Homo sapiens: one gene and its partners. The protein of the gene in region 3 purifies or fractionates together with the protein of the main gene of each other region. This does not show direct contact. Each region holds a gene or a part of one and is shown on either strand. Other genes may lie near its edges.

Region 1 (7,023 bases), on a different chromosome or scaffold from region 3:
CTTTGACTCCTGGTGAAATACAGCTCTTAGCATTACTATCTTTGAGTCACTGAAATGTTCTTAATATTCAAGAAAAGTTCTATTTCCTGAAGTTTCCAAGATCACCAGGCTACATTTATGTCATATTGCTTTAATCTTTTATAAAGTTTGTTATCTACTTTTATATTGACTTCAATTTTTCCCTCTTAATGCTTTCTATAAATAATGTCTTGCATATAATGCCATGCTTTGTATTTTTGAAAGGTTCGATATGTATAAGTAATTGAGATATAATTCACGTACAATGAAATTCGTTTGTTTAAATTATATAGTTCACTGGTTTTTAGTATATGCGCAAAATTGTGCAACCATCAGCACAGTCTAATTGCAGAACATTTACATCACCCCAGAAAACTCCTCACCTATTAGCAGTTATTCCTATACTCCTCTCCCCGCAGCTCCTGGCAACCACTAAACTTTTTCTCTATATGGATTTGCGTATTCTGGACATTTCAGTTTACTCCTTAAAAAATGTATTGAGTGATTTGATACAAACTTAATAAAGAATCTCACTTTAAATAGAAAACTGTCTGCTTACATCTAGTAGCTTCTCCCATAGACAGCTTTTAATGACAGTTTGTCAAAGAATTGGTATTTGGAAGTGGAGATGGATTAATGGGTAGGAGAGGGGAAGATGGTAGAAGCGGGGGGGCGGGAAAGGGTAAAGAGGTGACAAAGTTGAGGCAAGCAAATAACTTGATTTGAGACTTAGCTCCTCTTTAGATCTACCTTACTCTATGAATGAATAAATTGATAATAAATATGATTTATTTTCTCTCCATTCAGTCTGTGGCTCCAGCAGCCTTGTTTCTAGCAGCTAAAGTGGAGGAGCAGCCCAAAAAATTGGAACATGTCATCAAGGTAGCACATACTTGTCTCCATCCTCAGGAATCCCTTCCTGATACTAGAAGTGAGGTAGGAGATTAATTACACATCTGTTTTTCTTAATTTTTTTCCTTTCTTTTTTTTTCCCTACTCCCAAGCATGCCTGGATCTTTATGTATTTCAATGCAACTTAATTTTATAACTTCGATTTATTGAAGTTTAGATTGGTGTTGTTAAAAGAATATTTTAGTGTTTGTGTTTTTCTTAACAGTAAGAAAATCAGGCCAGGTATGGTGGCTCACCATACCTGTAATCCTAGCACTTTGGGAGGGTAAGGTGGGAGAATCACTTTAGGCCAGAAGTTTAAGACCAACCTGGACAACATAGCAAGACCCTGTCTCTATATTTAAAAAAAAGAAAAAAAAAAGCCAGATGTGGTGGCTCATGCCTGTAATCCCAGCACTTTGGGAGGCTGAGGCAGGAGAATTGCTTGAGTCCAGTTCGAGACAAGCTCTGGCAACAAAGTGAGACCCCATTTCTACAAAAAAAGAAAAACAACAACAACAACAACAACAAAAAACAACTGGGCATGCTGGCTCACATCTTTAGTCCCAGCTACTTGGGAGACTGAGGTGGGAGGGTTGCTTGAGCATGGGATGTTGAGGCTGCAGTGAGCCATGATCACACCACTGCAGGCAACAGTGCCAGGACTCTGTCTGAAAAACAAAACACATAAATTTTATGGCGAAAGTTTTGTATTTGTTGCAGTAAAATTTGAAAATACAGAAAAATTCAAGAATAAAATATCTCTCAGATATATTCTAGACCAATGGTCCCAGACCTTTTTTGGCACCTGGGACTGGTTTCATGGGAGACAGTTTTTACATGGACAGGGGGTGGGGTTGGAGATGGTTTTGGGATGATTCAAGCACATTACATTTATTGTTCACTTTATTTCTATTATTGTTACATTGTTATACATAATGAAATAATTACGTAACTCACCATAACGTAGAATCAGTGGGAGCCCTGAGCATCTCTTTTTTTTTGAGACGGAATCTTGCTCTTGTCGCCAGGCTGGAGTGCAGTGGCGCAATCTCGGCTCACTGCAACCTCCACCTGCCGGTTTCAAGCGATTCTCCTGCCTCAGCCTCCTAAGTAGCTGGGACTACAGGTGTGCACCACCACACACAGCTAATTTTTGTATTTTTAGCAGAGACAGGGTTTCACCATGTTAGCCAGAATGGTCTCGATCTCTTGACCTTGTGATCTGCCCGCCTTGGCCTCCCACAGTGGTGGGATTACAGGCATGAGCCACTGTGCCCGGCCACCTTGAGGTGCTTTTCCTGCAACTAGATGGTCCCATCTGGGGGTGATGGGAGACAGTGACAGATCATCAGGCATTAGATTCTCATAAAGAGCAGCAAATTAGATCCCTTGCATGGGCAGTTCACCACAGGGTTCAAGTGCTCCTATAAGAATCTAATGCCACTGCTGATCAGACAAGAGGCAGTGCTCAGGTGGCAATATGTATGGTGGGGAGAGGCTATAAATACAGATGAAGCTTCACTCACTCGTACCTGCTGCTCAACTCCTGCTGTGTGGCCTAGTTCATAACAGGCCATGGACCCCCTGTTATATAGACAACTGAAGCACAGGTATACTAATGAACCACTGTTATTTGTGGCTTCTTTTCTATAGATAGCTATGTGTGCATGTATTTTGTCTCTGGTTTGTTTTCATTTGCTTACTATATCCCAAATATTTTCCCATCTGATGGATTCTCTACTTTTTAAAAATGTCTGGCTAGTATTTAATGATATATATGTGAATGTATGTATTTTTAACAATTCTCCATGAAGAAGTCTAGATAATTTCTAGCTTTTAAAATCACTATAAATGTTATGAAAAATATTCTTTTTTTTTTTTTTGGAGACAGGGTCTCATTCTGTTGCCCTGGCTGGAGTCCAGTAGTGTGATCATGGCTCACCGCGGCCTTGACCTTCCGGGCTCAGTGATCCCCCTGACCTCAGCATCCCGAGTAGCTGGGACTATAGGTGTGCGCCACCATGCCCAGCTAGTTTTTGTAGAGATGGGGTTTCACCATGTTGCCCAGGCTGCTCTCGACCTCCTGAGCTCAAGTAATTCGCCCACCTTGGCCTCCCAAGTGCTGGGATTACAGGCGTGAGCCACTGCACCTGGCTGAAAAATATTATTATACATTTTTATTATGGATCCTTAAATGAGTAGTTTCACTATTTTTTTTTTTTTTAACTTTTTTTTCGAGTTGGAGTTTTGCTCTTGTTGCCCAGGATTGAGTGCAATGGTGCAATCTCAGCCAACCGCAACCTCCCCCTCCTGGGTTCAAGCGATTTGCCTGCCTCAGCCTCCCGAGTAGCTGGGATTACAGGCATGTGCCACTACACCCGGCTAATTTTGTATTTTTAGTTGAAACGGGGTTTCTCCATGTTGGTCAGGCTGGTCTCGAACTCCTGACCTGAGGTTATCCACCTGCCTCAGCCTCCCAAAGTGCTGGGATTATAGGCGTGAGCCACCATGTCCAGCCAGCTTTGTTTTTTTTGAGACAGAATCTCGTTTTGTTGCCCAGGATAGAGTGCAGTGGCAAGATTGTAGCCAGGATGGTCTCGATCTCTTGACCTTGTGATCCGCCCGCCTTGGCCTCCCAAAGTGCTGGGATTACAGGTGTGAGCCACTGCACCCGGCCACCCTGAGCTTCTTTTCCTGCAACTAGATGGTCCCATCTACGGGTGATGGGAGACAGTGACAGATCATCAGGCATTAGATTCTCATAAAGAGCAGGTGATCATTTCACCTCAGCCTCCCAAGTTGCTAGGACTATAGCTGCGTGCCACCACTCCCAGTTAATTTTTATTTTTTTGTAGAGATAGGGGTCTTACCATGTTACCCAGGCTGGTCTTGAACTCTTGGCCTTCAAAGAATCCTCCCATACTGGCCTCCCAAAGTGTTAGAATTCCAGGTGTGAGCAACCATGCCTAGCTACATTTTTTTTTTCTTTTTTTGAGATGGAGTCTCGCTCTGTCACCCAGGCCGGAGTGCCGTGGTGCGATCTCAGCTCACTGCAACCTCCACCTCCCAGGTTCAAGAAATTCTCTGCCTCAGCCTCCTGAATAGCTGGGATTACTACCTGCATTCACTCTATGGAACAAGCCAAGGTTCACGCCCACCATCACACCCAGCTAATTTTTTAGTATTTTTAATAGAGACAGGGTTTCACCATATTGGCCAGGCTGATCTTGAACTCCTGACCTCGTGATACACCTGCTTTGGCCTCCCTAAGTGCTGGGATTACTGGCGTGAGCCACCGCACCCGGCCCATTCTTTATTTTTTAACTGTCTAAAAAATCCAGTGTATTTTATGGTTATAGCACGTTTCAATTTAGCTACATTTCAAGTGATGAATGGCTACATGTGGCTAGTGGCTATAGCTTTGGCTGGCACAAATCTGAGTGAATTTTCTTATTACCTTTTCCTTTGAACTCTTCTGTTACTTTTTAGAAACCTAACATGGCCCCAAAGGGGAAGTTCTAATAGGAGCCAAATGTTTGGTATTAAATGCTTACAGTACTGTAGGAAGGTTCTGCAAATGTATTTTGGTGATGTTGAAAAATATATACTTTATGGCCAGGCGCGGTGGCTCATGCCTGTAATCCTAGCAATTTGGGAGGCTGAGGCGGGTGGATCACCTGAGGTCAGGGGTTCAAGACCAGCTTTGCCAATATGGTGAAACCCCGTCTCTACTAAATATACAAAAACTAGCCGGGCGTGGTGGTGGGCTCCTGTAATCCCACCTACTCGGGAGGCTGAGGCAGGAGAATCGCTTGAACCTGGGAGGCAGAGGTTGCAGTGAGGCGAGGTCGCGCCACTGCACTCCAGCCTGAGCAGCAGAGCGAGACTCCCTCTCAAAAAAAAAGGCCGGGTGCGGTGGCTCACGCCTGTAATCCCAGCACTTTGGGAGGCCGAGGTGGGCGGATCATCTGAGGTTGGGGGTTTGAGACCAGCCTGACCAACATGGAGAAACCTCGTCTCTACTAAAAATACAAAATTAGCTGGGTGTGGTGGTGCATGCCTGTAATCCCAGCTACTCGGGAGGCTGAGGCAGGAGAATTGTTTGAACCGGGAGGCAGAGGTTGTGGTGAGCCGAGATTGTGCCATTGCACTCCAGCCTGGGCAACAAGAGCGAAACTCCAACTCAAAAAAAAAAGAAAAAAGAAAAGCAAAAAATACATACTTTTAATTTTCTTTTCTCTAAATCACATGAACCATAAAACTTAAATATTAACCTGAAAATGAACCAAATATATGGTGCTTTTTCTGTAGCCATATATAAACTGTTACCTCTCAGCATACTACTTATTTATTTATTTTTTAAAGAAAATGTGTACTGAATGGGCATAAGGGATAAAGATTGTATTTCACAAAAAAATTAGCCGGGCGTGGTGTTGCGCGCCTGGAATCTTAGCTACTTGGGAGGCTGAGGCAGGGGAATTGCTTGAACCAGGGAGGTGGAGGTTGCAGTGAGTCGAGATCACACCACTGCACTCCAGCCTGGGTGACAGAGGGAGACTCTGTCTAAAAAAAAAAAAAAAAAAAAAAAAAAAGATTGTATTTCAGTTCTTAACTCTACCTCCTAACTCCACTCATGCCTTTTATTGTTTTGGTTTCCCTGGAAGGGATTGTTAGAATTGTTTATACTTTATATATTGTGCCTTTGTAGGGAATAATTTCTGTCTTCTCACTTTTAGGCTTATTTGCAACAAGTTCAAGATCTGGTCATTTTAGAAAGCATAATTTTGCAGACTTTAGGTAAGTTTATTTTCCTTTGAAACATTTTTTTAAATTATGCAATAAAATGATTTGATTCTAAAAATTTGCTATATAGGAAGAATATTTCTTGGGAAAGTTTTTGTAGTGTCCCTCTGTTTCCAGATGATAGAGGTTGTAGACCTGAGTTTAGCTTTGACCTGTTCCATAGAGTGAATGCAGGTAGTACAGCTGACCTTTGAAACAGCAGCCAGTGGGTTATTATTTTTTTCATTCTAGGGTTATTTGCTTTTTAAGTTTTGGTGATTTTTACCCCCAAAAATTATAAAAACTATCTAAAGAATGTTTTTCCTTCCGTGGATTGTTATGGCCTGTAACAGCATTTGTTTTTAAAATTGGTAACTAGTGTTTAGAACAGCAGAGTGAAAGTGGGGGAACTTAAGCTTTAGTGGTTGCATGGGCAACTCTGATGATATTGTGTTATTATCTGTTATTTTCATCACACAGGCTGCCTTTAGAAGTTTAGAAAATATGAAAATACAGATTTTTTTTTTCCTGGTTCTTTTGGGCTATCATTTTTCTCTTCTAGGTAGGGTAAGATTTCATGAGTTGTACGTCAAAGTTATTGGCGTAGACACAATTTTTTTTGTACATATATATATATGATGAGTTCTTCAAAGTTTATCTCTCAATTTATTCTAGTTAACTTTTTTCTTTTTCTTTTTTTTTTTTTTTTGAGACGGAGTCTTGCTTTGTCGCCCAGGCTGGAGTGCAGTGGCACAATCTTGGCTCATTGCAACCTCCGCCTCCTGGGTGCACGCCATTCTCCTGCCTCAGCCTCCAGAGTAGCTGGGACTACAGGCGCCCGCCACCACGCCCAGCTAAATTTTTGTATTTTTAGTAGAGATAGGGTTTCACCGTGTTAGCCAGGATGGTCTTGATCTCCTGACCTTGTGATCCGCTCGCCTCGGCCTCCCAAAGTGCTGGGATTACAGGCTTGATCCACCGCGCCCAGCCTCTAGTTAACTTTTTTCTTAAAATATCTTCAAATTATATTTCATGGGACAATGATGTTTTTCTGGTGGAATAAATTTCTATTAATATTTTAGTGTGGAAACCAGTAAGGTGTAATTTACAATCAGTTATCCTTTTACAATAATTTGTAAAATGTAAACTTCTTAATAGTTTTTTAATCCATTACTTTTTCTTTTAAGGCTTTGAACTAACAATTGATCACCCACATACTCATGTAGTAAAGTGCACTCAACTTGTTCGAGGTAAGGAATCCCAGCTTATGAAGACTATCTCAAGCTGTTTTCCCATTTAGAGGTTGTGGTTTGTGGTGGACAATACATA
Region 2 (7,926 bases), on a different chromosome or scaffold from region 3:
ATTGACATATAGTTGCTCAATAAATGGTAATTATTACTTTTCAAATAGAGCTGACTGAACAACAAAAATCACTAAATAGTCATAAAGGACACTCTACGGTCAATTTTGATCCTAATGACTAAACTACATAGAGGTCAAAACAGCTAATAAATCTAAAACAATCCACTTTTGCTTTTTAAATACTTACACTTATTTTTGCAGCAAACTAACTAAATCCAGGTGAAGGCTATGCATAATGGAAACAAAAGTTTGGCTATGTTCAAACCAATCTTTTAAAAGTAAGTTATTTCCCAATACATTAATAATTTAAGAACATGTTACAGTCCCCACAACAATTAACAGAATGTACCCTGAGGTCCACCTCTATCTTGCTGTTATATACCCAGTGTCAATACAGTGTCTGGCACATACTAGGTACCTAGAAAATATTTATTTGCGGTCTACATACACTCACTTAATATTACTCCAGAGTAGTGATCCAATACTAGAAAAACAACCCAAAGTAATAAAGGAGCATATTTGAAAAGTAGTTTTAATAGACAATTCATCAGAAATTTCTTAGTCTCTAAAAAGGCCTTATTAAACCACTAGCATGAGACCACTGTGTAAAGATAAGTCAAAATCAGAGCATTACTTGAAGAAAAGTTCATCAGTTGGTAGATAAGGAGGAATATCAGACAAAATGAAAGTCACCAGTGACAACTTTCAAAGAGCTAATAAGAGGGGCTACAACTCTACAAATAAAAACAAAGATATATATTCATAATAAATTGAATGAGGAAAGATTTAAAATAACCAAGGGATCCTAAATATTTTCCAAGTCTGTTCACTCTTATCATCCACCTAAGAATAGGATTTGCTCTAGTTGATCAGATTCAGTTTACTTTTACTGATTTTTTATTCTTTTCCGCCCCCCCCCCCCCAATTATGTCACCCAGGCTGGAGGGCAATGGCGCAATCTTGGCTCACTGCAACCTCCACTTCGTGGGCTCAAGCCATCCTCCCATCTCAGCCTCCCGAGTAGCTGGGACTACAGGTACATACCACCCCACCCGGCTTTCTTTTTTTTTTTTGAGACTGAGTCCCGCTCTATTGCCCAGGCTGGAGTGCACTGGTGCCATCTTGGCTCACTGCAATCTCCACTTCCCCGGTTGAAGCAATTCTCCTGCCTCAGCCTCTGAGTAGCTGGGATTACAGGCGCCTGCCACCATGCCCGGCTAATTTTTGTATTTTTAGTAGATATGGGGTTTTGCCAGGTTGTCCAGGCTGGTCTCGAACTCCTTACCTCAAGTGATCCGCCCACCTCGGCCTCCCACAGTGCTGGGATTACAGGCGTGAGCCACCGTGCCCAGCCTTTTACCGGTTTTCGATTGTGTGCTATGCACCGTAGAAAGCATATGAAAAATAGAGGAGCTTCGAACTGATGCAGAAGGAAGTCACGTGCACTTAGCTACTACATAATACATATCTGGAACCAATACAAGAACCTGATCCAATGTCCACTCTAGTCCTCTTTTCCTCTGTGCACCTTCTACGAGTTTGGTTATAGACTTAAGCACCCTTCCATTTTCAAAATTTAAGTACCCACAACTTGAATTCTCAAGTTATTTTATCTTTCTTCTCTTAAAAAAAAATGTTAAGGGGTTAGTTTTCAGAATCTTCAATTTTACTAGATACGGTATGCACAATGTTAAAGACAAGCTCCAATAAAAATTTATGTATACCTTTAAAAGGTTTGTGAAACATTTAAAAAATTTTTAAAAACACAAATTCTTCTTGGAACAATGAAGATAACGAACATCTGTGGTTCCCTAAATGAGCCGTAATTTTAAGATGGGCAGCAACTAAAGGGCTTCAGCTTTGCCAAAACGTCAAGAGGCTGCCTTGCAGTGGGCTCGCAGTGATTTTAAAATGTTATTCTTCTCGTCTCGATTTATGTTTTTCTCCCTCTCAAAGTTAAACTTAAATGTCGTTGGAAACGTAATTTGGTAACATTCTGATGTCATTTCCTTCCGTTTTTAAATTTGTAACGAAATAAAAATATTTGTTCGTTCTCAAAATGAAGGTCTTCCACACACAAAAATTAAGCATGGAGTGCAATAAGGTCAATCGAATAAAGCTGCATCCGACCTTTTAAAATATGGAATAACATTTTTCCCTTCTCCAGAACTCTTGACTACTGACACAGGACAATGCCTGAAGTATGAAGCACAGACACGGAAACACCGGATGCGAAAGACTGGAGACCGAGACAGCAAAGGGAGGTGGAGCGGAGTGCTGATCTCGGTTCCTCCAAAACTCGTACTGTGAATCTGTGACACGGGACAATGAAATGTGAGCAAGGACAAGCTTACACAGCATCATAATGTTAATTTGAAGACGGTTTTCCGGTTGATGAGGCAACGAAAGGCTGAAAGACTCCAAAGTTAAAGGAGCCCCAATTTTGCCCGAGAAAACGTAGAGCTAGGAGGGCGGTGACCAGTTTTCCCAGACTTATCTCTACGCACTCCAAGATGCTGAAAGTGGGACCCCTGCTCCTGTAGGTACAGGAGGCCTCTGCACCCCGCTTGGCCCAAGCTAACCCTGCCCTCCCAGACCAGGCCTGGCCAGACCCTCCCGCCCCGGGCCGGGTCTCCGCCGGGCCGGCTCCCAGCCCCAGTCAGGCCAGCAGAGCCTTCGTCTCCTCCTGCCTCAGCCGGGTCAGAGCAGGGCCCCTGAAGACTGGCGATCCCGCGCCCGACTACCTTGGTCGTCCGGATATGCTCCATCGCAAGGAGACGTCAGCCGGCAGCCGGTCTCACAGGCGTACCATACGGCTACAGAAACAGGGCGGTGACAGCGACAGAGAGCAAGCGGGAACTCCCTCCACCAGCCAGCGCCGCGGGTCTGTCTGCCGGCCCCGGTGGCGTCAACGGCGCAGGTGCAGCCGGTGAGCGCCGTCTCCTAGAAACACTTCCCCAAACCCCGCGGCCTCCCGGGGGACTCGGGGCAGGCAGACAGAGCGTGTGTGGACCGAGAGCGGCTTGCTGGTTCGTCCCGGACAGCGGCGGATCCCACAGCGCCCCCTGCTGGAGGAGGCCGGTACTGCTCACCACCCCACCCGAGGCGGTCTTTGTCATCCCGCCGAGCGGACGCGCGGGGCGGTCGGGGAGGAAGACTGCGTGAGAATGGATCCCGAGTAAAGGGTTCTTGTGGGGTGAGGGCAAGAGTGGAGGATGTTCTGAAGTCCATCGCCATACCACTGGACAGCACCAAATTTAGTTTGAGCTGCAGTTCTACTCATAAGAATGTATTCTAAGGAAATAATCAGATTTGGAGTTATTATTCTAAGGAAATAACCAAATAAGGAAACCAGCCTTATTTGAAACAATCAACTCTCCAATCCTACGGATTCCTTATGTAAAGTATGATGATTAGCTAGTCCTCAATCTGGTCTGGTGTCAGAGTCCCGCCTCCTACCTCAATTTCATACGATGTTAGCACCAGCATCCATTAAAACTCATCCTGTAGAGGGATATCACATAACGAAAATGTTAATGCTGCATTACTGAGTGAAGAAAAAACTGACTATGGAACAATAAGTTCAATGTAGCCGTGCTCTGTAATTTTTATTTATGTAAACAAAAAGTTTACATTTCTAGGTGAGGGTTACAGGTAATTTTTGTTAGAACACGTCTAATGTGGTACTTCTCAGCCTGGAGTGAGTTTTCTCCCCGGGGGACATTTGGTAACATCTGGAGATATTTTTGGTTGTCTCAAATGGTGGTGGTGGGGGGGTGGCGGCGGGGGGCAACTGGTGGGTGGAGGCCAAGTCACAAGTCGGCTGCTGAACACCCTACTAGGCACCAGACCAACCCCCCAACTACAGGGAATTATCCGGCAGATGACAACAGTGCAGAGGTTGAGAAACCCTGCTCTATGCCAGGCGCGGTGGTTCACGCCTGTAATCCCAGAACTTTGGGAGGCTGAGGCGGGCGGATCACTTGAGGTCAGGAGTTAGAGTCCGAGAAACTCTGCTCTACGTTTTGTAAGTATTCTGTACTAAGCCGGTTAAGGTTTGTAATCTTCATCTTTCATACTGTGATTGGTGTTAGAAAAGCCTAACATCTAAATTTTCTTTTATAATTAAAAATTTTGTTTCACTTATTTGTTTCATTTTGTTCAAGTTGTCTTGGTTTGTTTTGTTTTGAGTGCCTACGATGTTTCAGACAGATTGCCAAAGCAATGGAGATGGTTATTAAACACAACAGCCTTTGCGGTGGAGTTGCTGACTCCTCTAAGCTAAATATGTAATAAGAGTTACATTAAACCACCTAGAAACCAACCTTAGTACAGTATCACATCCACCCCCTCCCCCCGAAAAAAAACCCCACAAATCCTGCTCAGAAAAAAAAAAAAATATATATATATATATATATACACATATATATATATATATATATACATATATATATATATACACATATATATATATATAGAGAGAGAGAAAAGTAATGTAGGTCTTTACTGAGGATTGCTTTTTGAGAAAACAGAAAGAGGTGAATTGTATAGCATACAGCAAGACTTTCTTAACAAAACTTTTTATATCATTTTCCTCCCAATTTACAACTTCCTCCTTCCCCATTCCCCTACAGATTATCCTCCCTCTTCTCATCTCCTCACTTCCTGTGTCCTCTCTTTACCAATTCTCACAGAGAGGCAATCATAATGATGTCAGGTGACCAAATGTACTGAGTGCTTTACGGGTATTCTGAGGAAAATGCTATTGCTTTCTTTATTTTAGAGATGAGACAAGCGAGACACAATGAAGTGAAGTAACTTGCCCAATATCACATAGCAGATAAAGCCAAGATCCATGTTATAAAGCCAGACAGGCTGACTTCAGAGTCTGTATTCTTAACAACTGTTTTACATTGATTTGCTTCTCAAAATCCATATTAAAGTTCTATTTATGTTAATATGATAGGCTAGAAAATTACCTAGCTTTACAGAAAGAAAGTAAAATAACAGATAAAATATTAAATGACGTTTCTTTGACTCTTGAGTTGAATACTCTTGCACTAGATAGAATATTCCTTATGGTTAAATCTGGCAATCACTCAGTTCCATTATCTTTCCTCGAGACATCTCTTTAGAGGTCTCCAGATGCTTCTAGGAGCCTTTTCTCCTTTTGCTCCAGTTTGCACTTGTGTTCTCTGAGCCTACTGAATGGATATTATCCTGGGACTCTCCTCACCATGGGCCTGAGAAATGTGTTGGTTACTTGTGCTGAATTTTTAGATCCTGTGGTTTATCTTTCTTGATTTACTTACTTGCATTGTTTTATTCTGATGTAGTATATTCTGTATTAACTTCCTGAGAAAGGGTGAATGGAGCATAAATCCTTGACGGGAAGTTTGGCTAGGTCTAGAATTCTGTAATTTTAATTAGGATTTTGAAAGCTCCCAGAGACATATCCTGACTTTCAATGCAGTTGTTCAGAAATCCGCTGGCATTCCGATTTCCCTTTAGGTGTCGCTTCTACTTTCTCAGGATGCTTTTTGGATCTCTTTATCTCCAATGGTCTAAAATTTCAACATAATAAAACTTAGCTTTCTTGTTTATTTTTCTGCCCAGTGTTTTGAGCTCTGTAATCTGAAAACATAAGTCCTTCAATTCTGGGACATTTTCTTGTATTATTTCTGTAATAATTACTGTTTCGTTCTTTTTCCTTCTTCCTTTTTCTTTTTTCCCTTTAAAAATTTTTTTTATTCTTCTCACCTCTCTTCTCTCCCTCATCTTTCTTCTTTCCTATTTCCCTCCTGTCCTTTCTCCTTTCTTTTTATTTTGTTTTATTTTTATTTATTTATTTTTGAGACAGGGTCTCACTGTGTCACTGAGGTTGGAGTGCAGTGGCACAATCTCAGCTCACTACAGCCTCAACCCCTCAGGTTCAAGCAATCTTCCCACCTCAACCTCCTGAGTAACTGGGACTACAGGCGTGCACCACCAAGCCTGACTAATTTTTGTATTTTTTGTAGAGACGGGTTTTTTCCATGTTGCCCATGCTGGTCTCAAACTCTCGGGCTCAAGTGATCTGCCTGCCTCAGCCTCCCAAAGTGCTGGAATTACAGATGTGAGCCACTGTGCCCAGCCCCTTTCTTTTTTCAGTAGAAATTCCTGGTCTGACTTCCTAATTTTACTATTCTTTCACTCCTATTTTTTAAGAATTTACCTTTCTAATCTACTCTCTAGGAAATTCTTAATACTTCATTGTTTCTAATATTTTTAGAATACTCCATTATTTCTAATATTTTTAATTGCTGCAATTATATATATGTACATGTGTGTATGTATGTGTATGTATATATATATACACACATATACATGCACATACATATATAATTGTAGACAAACCTTGTGCTCAGATCTTGGATTCTTCTTTTTCTTCCTTTTTTGTCTACTGAGCACAAGGTTTGCCTCCCAAAGTGCTGGGATTACAGGCATGAGCCACTGTGCCTGGCTTATATTTTTAATTTCTAAGTGTTTTCACTTTAAATAGACTTTATTTTTATTTATTTATTTATTTTTTAGAGATGAGGTCTCGCTATATTGCCCAGGCTGGAGTGCAGTGGCTGTTCATAGGTGTGATCATAGTGCACTACAGCCTCAAACTCCTGGGCTCAAGCAACCTTCCTGTCTCAGCCTTCTGAGTAGCTGGGAATACAGGTATGCTATACCACAAGATGCTCCAGGCTCATCTTGCATCTTTCCCACCCCAGCCCTAGAATCATCCATTTCCCCAAGGAGCCCTGGTTCCTTTTATTGGAAAATGTTATTAGAATCCAAGATCTGTTCTGAACCCAAGATGACCTAACTGGAAAAAAAAAGAATCCAAAATCTGAGCACAAGGTTTGTCTACTAGAATGTTATTGTTTCTAAGTGAAGAGATCTTTTTGGTTACATACATTTTCCTATTTTTCTTTGTTTTTCAGTTTGTTCATTTATTTGTTTTCTAGCCTCCTGCTCTGATACATGTAAGAGCTCATCTCTCCTAGGTGAATAATAGTTTTCATTTATTTATGTATTTCTTGTAATTTTTGCTTCCTGAACCCTATTCCTTTTAGGTTCTCTCTACGTTTGCTGTTTTGGTCTCTGACTTTGATGTCAGAAGCGATCCTCCAATATCTAATCATCTTTAATGGTCCTTTCCAGCAATAAAATGCTGATTGGAAACTTACTCTTTATAGGAGAATTTGCCTATTGTTAAGCTTCATTATTGAATGATGGGGTAGGGGCTTGGTACTTTTGTTGGGGGTCCCTACATCATTATTTGAAGACCCTGTGCATGTGAAAGGCACAGGGAGCTCTGGGAACAGATGTCCTGTTAGCAGCAGTAGCTGAGTAGAAGCCCCAGTCAGGTACCATATATAGGATCCAGATGATCCAGGCCATCTGCCTCTCTGTTGCCAGCTCTCCCCTTGGTGATTACTGCAAGGAACAAAGAGACCCATTTCCCCTCAATACAAGGGGTGGGAAATGAAGAGACATTGGAAAGAGAAGAGGTTCATTCACTAATATTTGTTTTATTGTTAGTAATATTTATAAAGCACACGATCCAGTTTCAGAGGATTCAATATGCACCTGTGTTCCTACATTCCTATCCTTCCCTTTAAAAATGTTGACATACAATAAAATTCATCAGATTAAGCATTTTCTGCTGCCTGATCTCATCAATTATGCCAAGAGCACACTTAATACTGTTACAATTCAATTGAGTAGTCCACTGCAACTTACAAACTAATCTGAAGGAAGATAATCAGGAAGAGACTTGTTTTTAGGGTTAGTTAGACTGGTGAATATCAAAATACCAGTGTAATCATTGACCACAAGAAAGCAGATGGGAATGAAAGTCAGCATGTTCTCTTCCTATAAAGCGTGGGGGGA
Region 3 (7,023 bases):
ACCACCTTCTGGGTTACTACATGGAGAGAAAGACAAACTGTCCAGGAAGGGCCACTGCAAAACTCTAGGGGTGAGCCTCAGCTAGGACCCTTTGCTTCTTGGTCTCATGCCAAGCACACAGGTAGGCAGAAACATCAGTCTGGGCTTTGAGACCGGGACTCTGACTACTGCAAGTGAATTGGTCTGGGCCTTTTTGACACAAGGTTAGAAACAACTCCCCTTGACCATTTGTGAATGTGTTTCTGCTTCTTGGATAAAAAGGTTAAGGAGGTGGGAAATGGGGCCAGCAGGTCTGTCATTCAGAACCAAGGCCAGGACCATCCTGGGTGGGTATACACTGTGTGGCTTGAAGCAACCCCCAAAGACACCTTTTCCCAAAGTATCTTCCCCACTATGGTTGTGACAGTGCCTGGCGTTTTTGTGTTATTCACTCCTTATGTTAAGGCAAAGAGGCTAATATGAATGTATCATGACTTACTAGAGCCTGAAAACTTATTTTCATTGGTATTGATTTCTCAGATTATGTTCTGGAACCTAGCAGGACTCTGGAGAAATAGGACCTAAGACAGATTCATTTTGAGGAGGAAAAGGATCAGAAAGATACAAAACTGAAATCAGGGTGGTAAAGAGGGAGAGGAGTGAATACCTGTAGGAATTTTAGGACAGTGGTTTTACAGAGGGAGTGGGGAAAGGAACTCACATTTGTTGATTACCTTGGTGCAAGGCCGTGTAGTGGGGATTTTATCTGTCTAAACTTATTTAACTCACATCAACCTAGTGGTCCGTGGAAGAAACTGAGCCTCAGTGAGATGAAGCAATGTAAGTGGCAGGATTCAAATCCAGGCCAGTCTGACTGCCAAGCCTTGATATTCTCCATTACAGCCCACTTTTCCCAGGCGACGGGAGAAGGAAGTTCTGCAAGGGGAAGCAGAGGTGTCTAGACAACTTGCCTCTCTTACTCACAGCTCTTCCTAGGCCTGGTCCTGAGTGCTGTCATGCTGGAGAGGAAACATAGCTTGATAGGGAAAATCCAGGACCCTCCATGTGGGAGAGGGGAATGAGAGGAATGGGCTTATGCTGAAACAGTGTGAACGCAGGCCAGGTCTGAGCTGGAAAAAGTCAGCAAGGTCAGAAATCACCTTCCTGTGTAAGGAGGAAGAGGAGATGACCCTCCAAGGATGCCGGGCAAGAGTGCCTAGAAACAGGTGAGCCTCATGACCTTTTCCAAAAACAATGTGCAATTTTAAAAATTGTTGTAAAAATATGTCACATAAAATGTACTATCTTACCCATTTTTGAGTCTACAATTCAGTAGTGTTAAGTATGTTCACACTGTTGTAAAATCCAGACCTTTCATTTTACAGAACTGGAACTTTATACCCATTAGGCCATCAACAACGGTTTAAGAATTCCTCACTTCCCCTCCCCAGGCTCTGGCAACTGGCAGTCTACTTTCTGCCTATGAATTTGACTAGTCTAGGTACCTCACCTAAGTGGAATCATACAGTATTTGTCTTTTTGTGACTAGCTTATTTCACTTAGCATTATGTCCTCAAGTTTCTTCTATGTTGTAGCATGTCTCAGAATTTTCTTCCTTTTTAAGGCTGAATAATATTTGATTATTTGGATATGCCACATTTTGTTTATTCATCCATCAGCATGCAATTATTTTATTGTCAGCTTTTCATTTTTTTCTGCCTCCTCCTCCTGCAGGTACTGTCTTTCTTGTTTCACTGGGTCCCCAGTGTGAGCATCATAATCAGCATATAATAGGAGCTTGATATTTAGTGACAGCATCAATGAAGAACCAATCCCAGAGATTCCTTAAATTTAAGCCAGTGTGGTAGAGTTTACAAAGTGTTTTTACAGCTACTTGATGAAGCAAATCCCATTTCCTCAATATTCAGAGAGGTTAAATGTTTTGACTAAGATCACACAGCTGGTAATGGACCAAGCTACCTAAACCAGGTCTTTTGACTGCTAAGTCAAGTGTATGTGTTGTCTCCCTGTAGTTATAACTGACTTTAACCTCACAGACTTGATGGGCCTTACCTGCTCATGTAGACAGAAAACATCGGCAAGTCCACCAGGTTCTGAGCCATCATGTTGTCAAATACTGGAGTCACTCCTCCCACAGCCAAGGAGGGGTATCCCAGGCCCAGAATTCCATCAAACTCTGCATCCACAAAGGTCTGGCCTGGCTCTGTGACACTTTCTCCAAACTGCTGGCCAACCACGGTTAGTCCTTCCACCTGGTAGGAGAAAGCCCACAGGAGAACAGGAGAATGGCACAGGGGATTGCTGGCAAAGGGTTTGACTCCTGGATTTTCCTCTGTCTTGAAGCTAATGCCTCTCCTTCCCAACTTTCCTTGACTAAATGAGCACAAAGATGCTTGCTATATTCCCAAAAAACAGGACATTCCAAACCTCAGAAGCCCTCATGCACCTGCCAATCATTGCGCCCCTCCTCAAGAAGAGCCAGTCTCCTGACTTCTAATAACATATATTGGTTTTGCCTATTTTTTGGATTTTATATAAATGGAATCATCCCATATGAACTCTTTGGTATCTGGCTTCTGTCACTCATCATGTGCTTATTGTACACTGTTTTTTTGTAACTTGTTTCAGAAAATTTTGCCTACCTTAAGGTCATGAAAACATTTTCTCATGTTTTCTTCTAAAAGCTTTATTGTTTACTTTTCACATTGCGATCTGGAACCTATATGAAATGTGATAATGTGTAAGGTAGGAATTAAGATTTATTTTTTTCTATCTGGATATTCATATGACCTGGCACTATTTAATAAATATACCATCATTTCCTCCACATACTGCAGTATCTTGTTCAACGCAAGTCAGATGACTGTGTTGATAGTTTTGTATTTTCTGTTCTGTTACATTTGTTTATTTTTTAAATTCTGTGCCAACACCACACGTCTACATTACTGTAACTTTATAATAAATCTTAATATTTACCAGTGTTTTTCTTCAGCAAGATTGTATTGGTGTATTACATATCCATATAAATGTTAGAATCAGTTTGCTAATGTCTAAGAAAAAATGCTGTTGTTTTGATTGGAATAAAATTGGTTGTATAGACCAATTTGAAAAAATTTGACTTTTTAATGAAACAGAGTCATTCAATCTATGAGCATGGTTTAGTTTTCAATACAGGTCTTCTTTTAATTTTATTCATTAATGTTTGTGATTTTTATGCAAGTCTTTTACTTTTATTTAGTAATGTTTGCTATTATCAGAGTAGAGTTCTCGCACATTTTTTGTTAAATTTACATCAAAGTAGCTGATGGTTTTGATAGTATTATAAATAGTGTCATTAAAAATCTATTTGCCATTTGTTTTACTTGCTACAGGTTGAGCATCACAAATCTGAAAATCTGAAACTGAAGTGCTTCAAAATCCAAAACTTTTTGAGTGCCAACATGAGGCTCAAAGAAAATGCTCATTGGAGCATTACAGATTATGGATTTTCAGATTTGGGATACTAAACTGGTAAGTATAATGCAAATATTTCAAAATCTGAAAAAATTTGAAATCTAAAAGGCTTCCGGTCCCAAGCATTTGGGATAAGGATCCATAACCTGTATATATAAATCCAAATGATTTTTTTTGAGACAGAGTCTCACTCTGTCACTCAGGCTGGAGTGCCATGGCATGATCTTGGCTCACTGCAACCTCCACCTCCTGGGTTCAAGCAGTTCTTCTGCCTCAGCCTCCTGAGTAGCTGGGACTACAGGCGTGTGCCACCACGCCTGGCTAATTTTTGTATTTTTAGTAGAGAAATGTTGGTCAGGCTGGTCTCAAACTCCTGACCTCATGATCCACCTGCCTCGGCCTCCCAAAGTGCTGGGATTACAGGCGTGAGCCACTGTGCCTGGCCCCAGATGATTTTTTTTATGTTGACCTCATATCCAGCAACTTCGCTAAGTTCACATATTAATCCCAATATCCTTTCTGTAGATATTTTTGGATTTTCTACTTATGGAATCTTGTCATACATTAATATTGACAGAGTTATTTCTTCCTTTTCCATCTTAATGTTCTTTATTTCTTTTTTCTTGCCTTGTTGCACTGGCTAGGATTTTCAGTACAATGTTGAATAGAAGTGGTGAGATTGAGTGTCCTTGTCTCATTCTTGATCTTATGGAGAAGTCTCTCGACAATTCACCATTAAGTATAAAGTTTGCTGTGGGCTTCTTTTAGATGAAGTCCTTCATTTTTATCAGATTAAGGGAGTTACTTTCTACTCCTAGTTTGCTAAGAGTTTTTCTTGAAGTCATGAATAGATATTGAATGTTATTAACCTACTAATATAATCATATTGGTCATATGATTTTTCTCCTTTTATTCTGTTAAATGATAAATTCCTGGAAAGATGACCCTTGGTATGATCTTTTTATATACCAAAAGATTTTATTTGCTAGTATTTCATTTAGAACTTTTGCATCTATATTCATGAGAGAAGAGATTGGTCTGTAATTTTATATTTTCTTTTGTTATAATGTCCTTTTCAAGTTTCATTATTAAAGTTATGCTGGTTTCATAAAATGAGTTATAAAGTGTTTTTACTTTGTCAAATATCTGGAAGAGTTTGTGAAAGACTGATTTTTTTTAGTGTTGAGAGAATTTATCAGTGAGGCTTTTCTTCGTGGAGTTTTCTTTGTGGAAAGATTTTTTAATAACAGAGTATATCTTTAAAAGATTCACATTTTCTATTTTTTGTTTTTGCATCAGTTTTGGTATGCTGTATTTCTCAAGGCATTTGTTGATTTTCTGAAAATTGTAAAATTTATCAATATAAAATTATTCTTGATAACTTTACTAATGTTCTCTTTCTCATTTCTAACATTGTTAAGTTGTATTTTCTTTCTTTTTTCTTATTTAGTCATGTGAGAGGCTAACCAATTTTATTACTCTTTGCAAAGAGTTCATTCTTGGCTTTGTTAATTTTCTGTACTGTGTGATTTCTCTATTTCATTTGTGTCCCATTCTACTCTTTATTATTTCCTTCCTTTTGATTTCTTTGGGTTTGATTTGCTATTGTTTGTTTACGGTTTGCTCATTTTCTTGTTATTCATTTCTTGAAATAGGAGCTTAGATAATTGATCATTAGCATTTCTATTAACAACGCATGCATTTTAGGCTAAATGGTCCCTTTAAGGGCTGCATCAGCTTCATCTACAAATTTTCACATGTCATATCTTTATTATGTCAGTCAGGGTTTGATAAGAGAAGCAGAACCATTAGGAGGTACTATAGATTATAGATATAGCTATAATGATGTGGATATAGATATTGATTATATGCAACTGTGGGTGCTAGTTAAACAGTGTACTTTAGGATACTGTTTCTGTCCTGATGCTGCAGCAGCAGTCTACAGTTTGCACAGCAGAAAGGGAAGATAGATGTCAAGTGGGAGAAAAAGGGCCAGTTGGAACCCATGAGGGTGAGGGTGGACTGGAACCCACATTGTTCTCTCACTGTCCCCAAGTCTCCAGCCTCAATGATGGGGATGTTATGCAGCAAAAGCTGATGATTTGTTAGAGGTAAGTGCACACCTGGTCCTGGAGCCAGAAAAACTGAGGGAAGGAGCAATGCAGCTGACATTGCTGTGGGCTTGGCTGCTGCCCTACACCAGCCAGGTGAGCCAACAGATACGTGACAAGCTATAGGCTTGAATTCCCCTTTCTATGCTAATTTCAGTCCCTTCCCTGCATCTCAGAGGTTACTGTGATGATCAGTTAGGGATGTAGCCTTCAAAATAGTCATTTTAACTTTTATATATATATTATATGTAATTAGATATATAATATATATGTATATGTCATAATATATATAGAATCTTATATATAACATAATATATACACATTACATATATATTGTGTTAATCTATTATATAATAGATTAACATATTATGTAATATATTATGTTAATCTATTATATAATAGGTTAATCTATTATATAATAGATTAACATAATATATTATGTAATATATTATTACATACAACATATTAATATATTATATAACACATACTATATTATTAATATAATACATTATATCAATTATATTCTATAATATATTATATATTATATAACATATATTAATGTAATGTATTACATATTATATTAATTATATAATATATAACATGTATTATATGATATAATTATGCAATTATTATATACTTTAATATGTTACATATTGTATCTATATAATATATACAGATGGATATATATTATATATACAAATATACTGTATATTACATATATTCATATATGGATATTATATATTATATATTATATATGTAATGTGTGTATACACACGCATACATAGTTCCAATAGAAAATACAGTACATTGTTTTATCTGTATGATATTTTTACATAGATGGTGTTTTTCTGCTTCTGGCATTCTTTCAGTTGATAATATGTCCTACTCCACCCACTCTAAGGGATGTTGATGAAGGCTGTGCCCTGCTGGCCTCGGGAATACCCCAGGGACCAACGTTCACCAGGAGTAGGTCAACCTCTCTTTCTCCCAAGGCCCAGGCATATATTGCTGTCTATAAGCCTGAAAAAGTACCTGGCTCTCTGTCCCCACATTTGTCTGATTCCCATAGTTCTAGGACCCATAGGACTTCAGAGGGAGTCAGAGGGTCAGAGGTCAGAGGGAGTTTGAGGAACAGCTCATGAGCTCAGCACTGAGTTCAGTTTGGACCTTGGCCTTTGGACAACTGGGCTTCTGCCTTGCCTCTGTGATTGGACTCCCATTTCAGACCTTGCCCCCTTATGTTACTGAGTCCAAATCTCTCCCCCTGGTGTGGACTTCTTTATCCTTCAAGACGGAGACGTGGTTTTATCTCCTCAATGCCCTAGAGACTGGAGATCCAGCTGTGCACCCTGCCACCAGGCTTTGTGCACTGGGCACTGCTTCCTGCCAGAGTCCCCCTGTGCTGCTCTCCCCCAGGGCCCAGCGTGCTGTGGAGACTGACCCACTGCCACCATCTCAG

What was found. The genes of interacting proteins can lie anywhere in the genome.
Region 1: the proteins of CTSE (region 3) and CCNT1 purify together in Homo sapiens (affinity purification with mass spectrometry; 2 studies listed by BioGRID and IntAct, with this or other methods). This does not show direct contact.
Region 2: the proteins of CTSE (region 3) and MTMR6 purify together in Homo sapiens (affinity purification with mass spectrometry; 2 studies listed by BioGRID and IntAct, with this or other methods). This does not show direct contact.

Annotation. Positions count from the first base shown.
Region 1 is NC_000012.12:48,699,699-48,706,721, reverse strand, and holds part of CCNT1 (cyclin-T1), read left to right. Parts: intron 1-825; coding exon 826-954; intron 955-5,648; coding exon 5,649-5,709; intron 5,710-6,881; coding exon 6,882-6,944; intron 6,945-7,023. UniProt on the Homo sapiens protein: Regulatory subunit of the cyclin-dependent kinase pair (CDK9/cyclin-T1) complex, also called positive transcription elongation factor B (P-TEFb), which facilitates the transition from abortive to productive elongation by phosphorylating the CTD (C-terminal domain) of the large subunit of RNA polymerase II (RNA Pol II).
Region 2 is NC_000013.11:25,284,480-25,292,405, forward strand, and holds the start of MTMR6 (phosphatidylinositol-3,5-bisphosphate 3-phosphatase MTMR6), read right to left. Parts: upstream 3,010-7,926; 5' UTR 2,769-3,009; coding exon 2,745-2,768; intron 1-2,744. UniProt on the Homo sapiens protein: Lipid phosphatase that specifically dephosphorylates the D-3 position of phosphatidylinositol 3-phosphate and phosphatidylinositol 3,5-bisphosphate, generating phosphatidylinositol and phosphatidylinositol 5-phosphate.
Region 3 is NC_000001.11:206,013,879-206,020,901, forward strand, and holds part of CTSE (cathepsin E isoform a preproprotein), read right to left. Parts: intron 2,268-7,023; coding exon of another isoform or gene 2,253-2,267; coding exon 2,053-2,252; intron 17-2,052; coding exon 1-16. UniProt on the Homo sapiens protein: May have a role in immune function. Probably involved in the processing of antigenic peptides during MHC class II-mediated antigen presentation.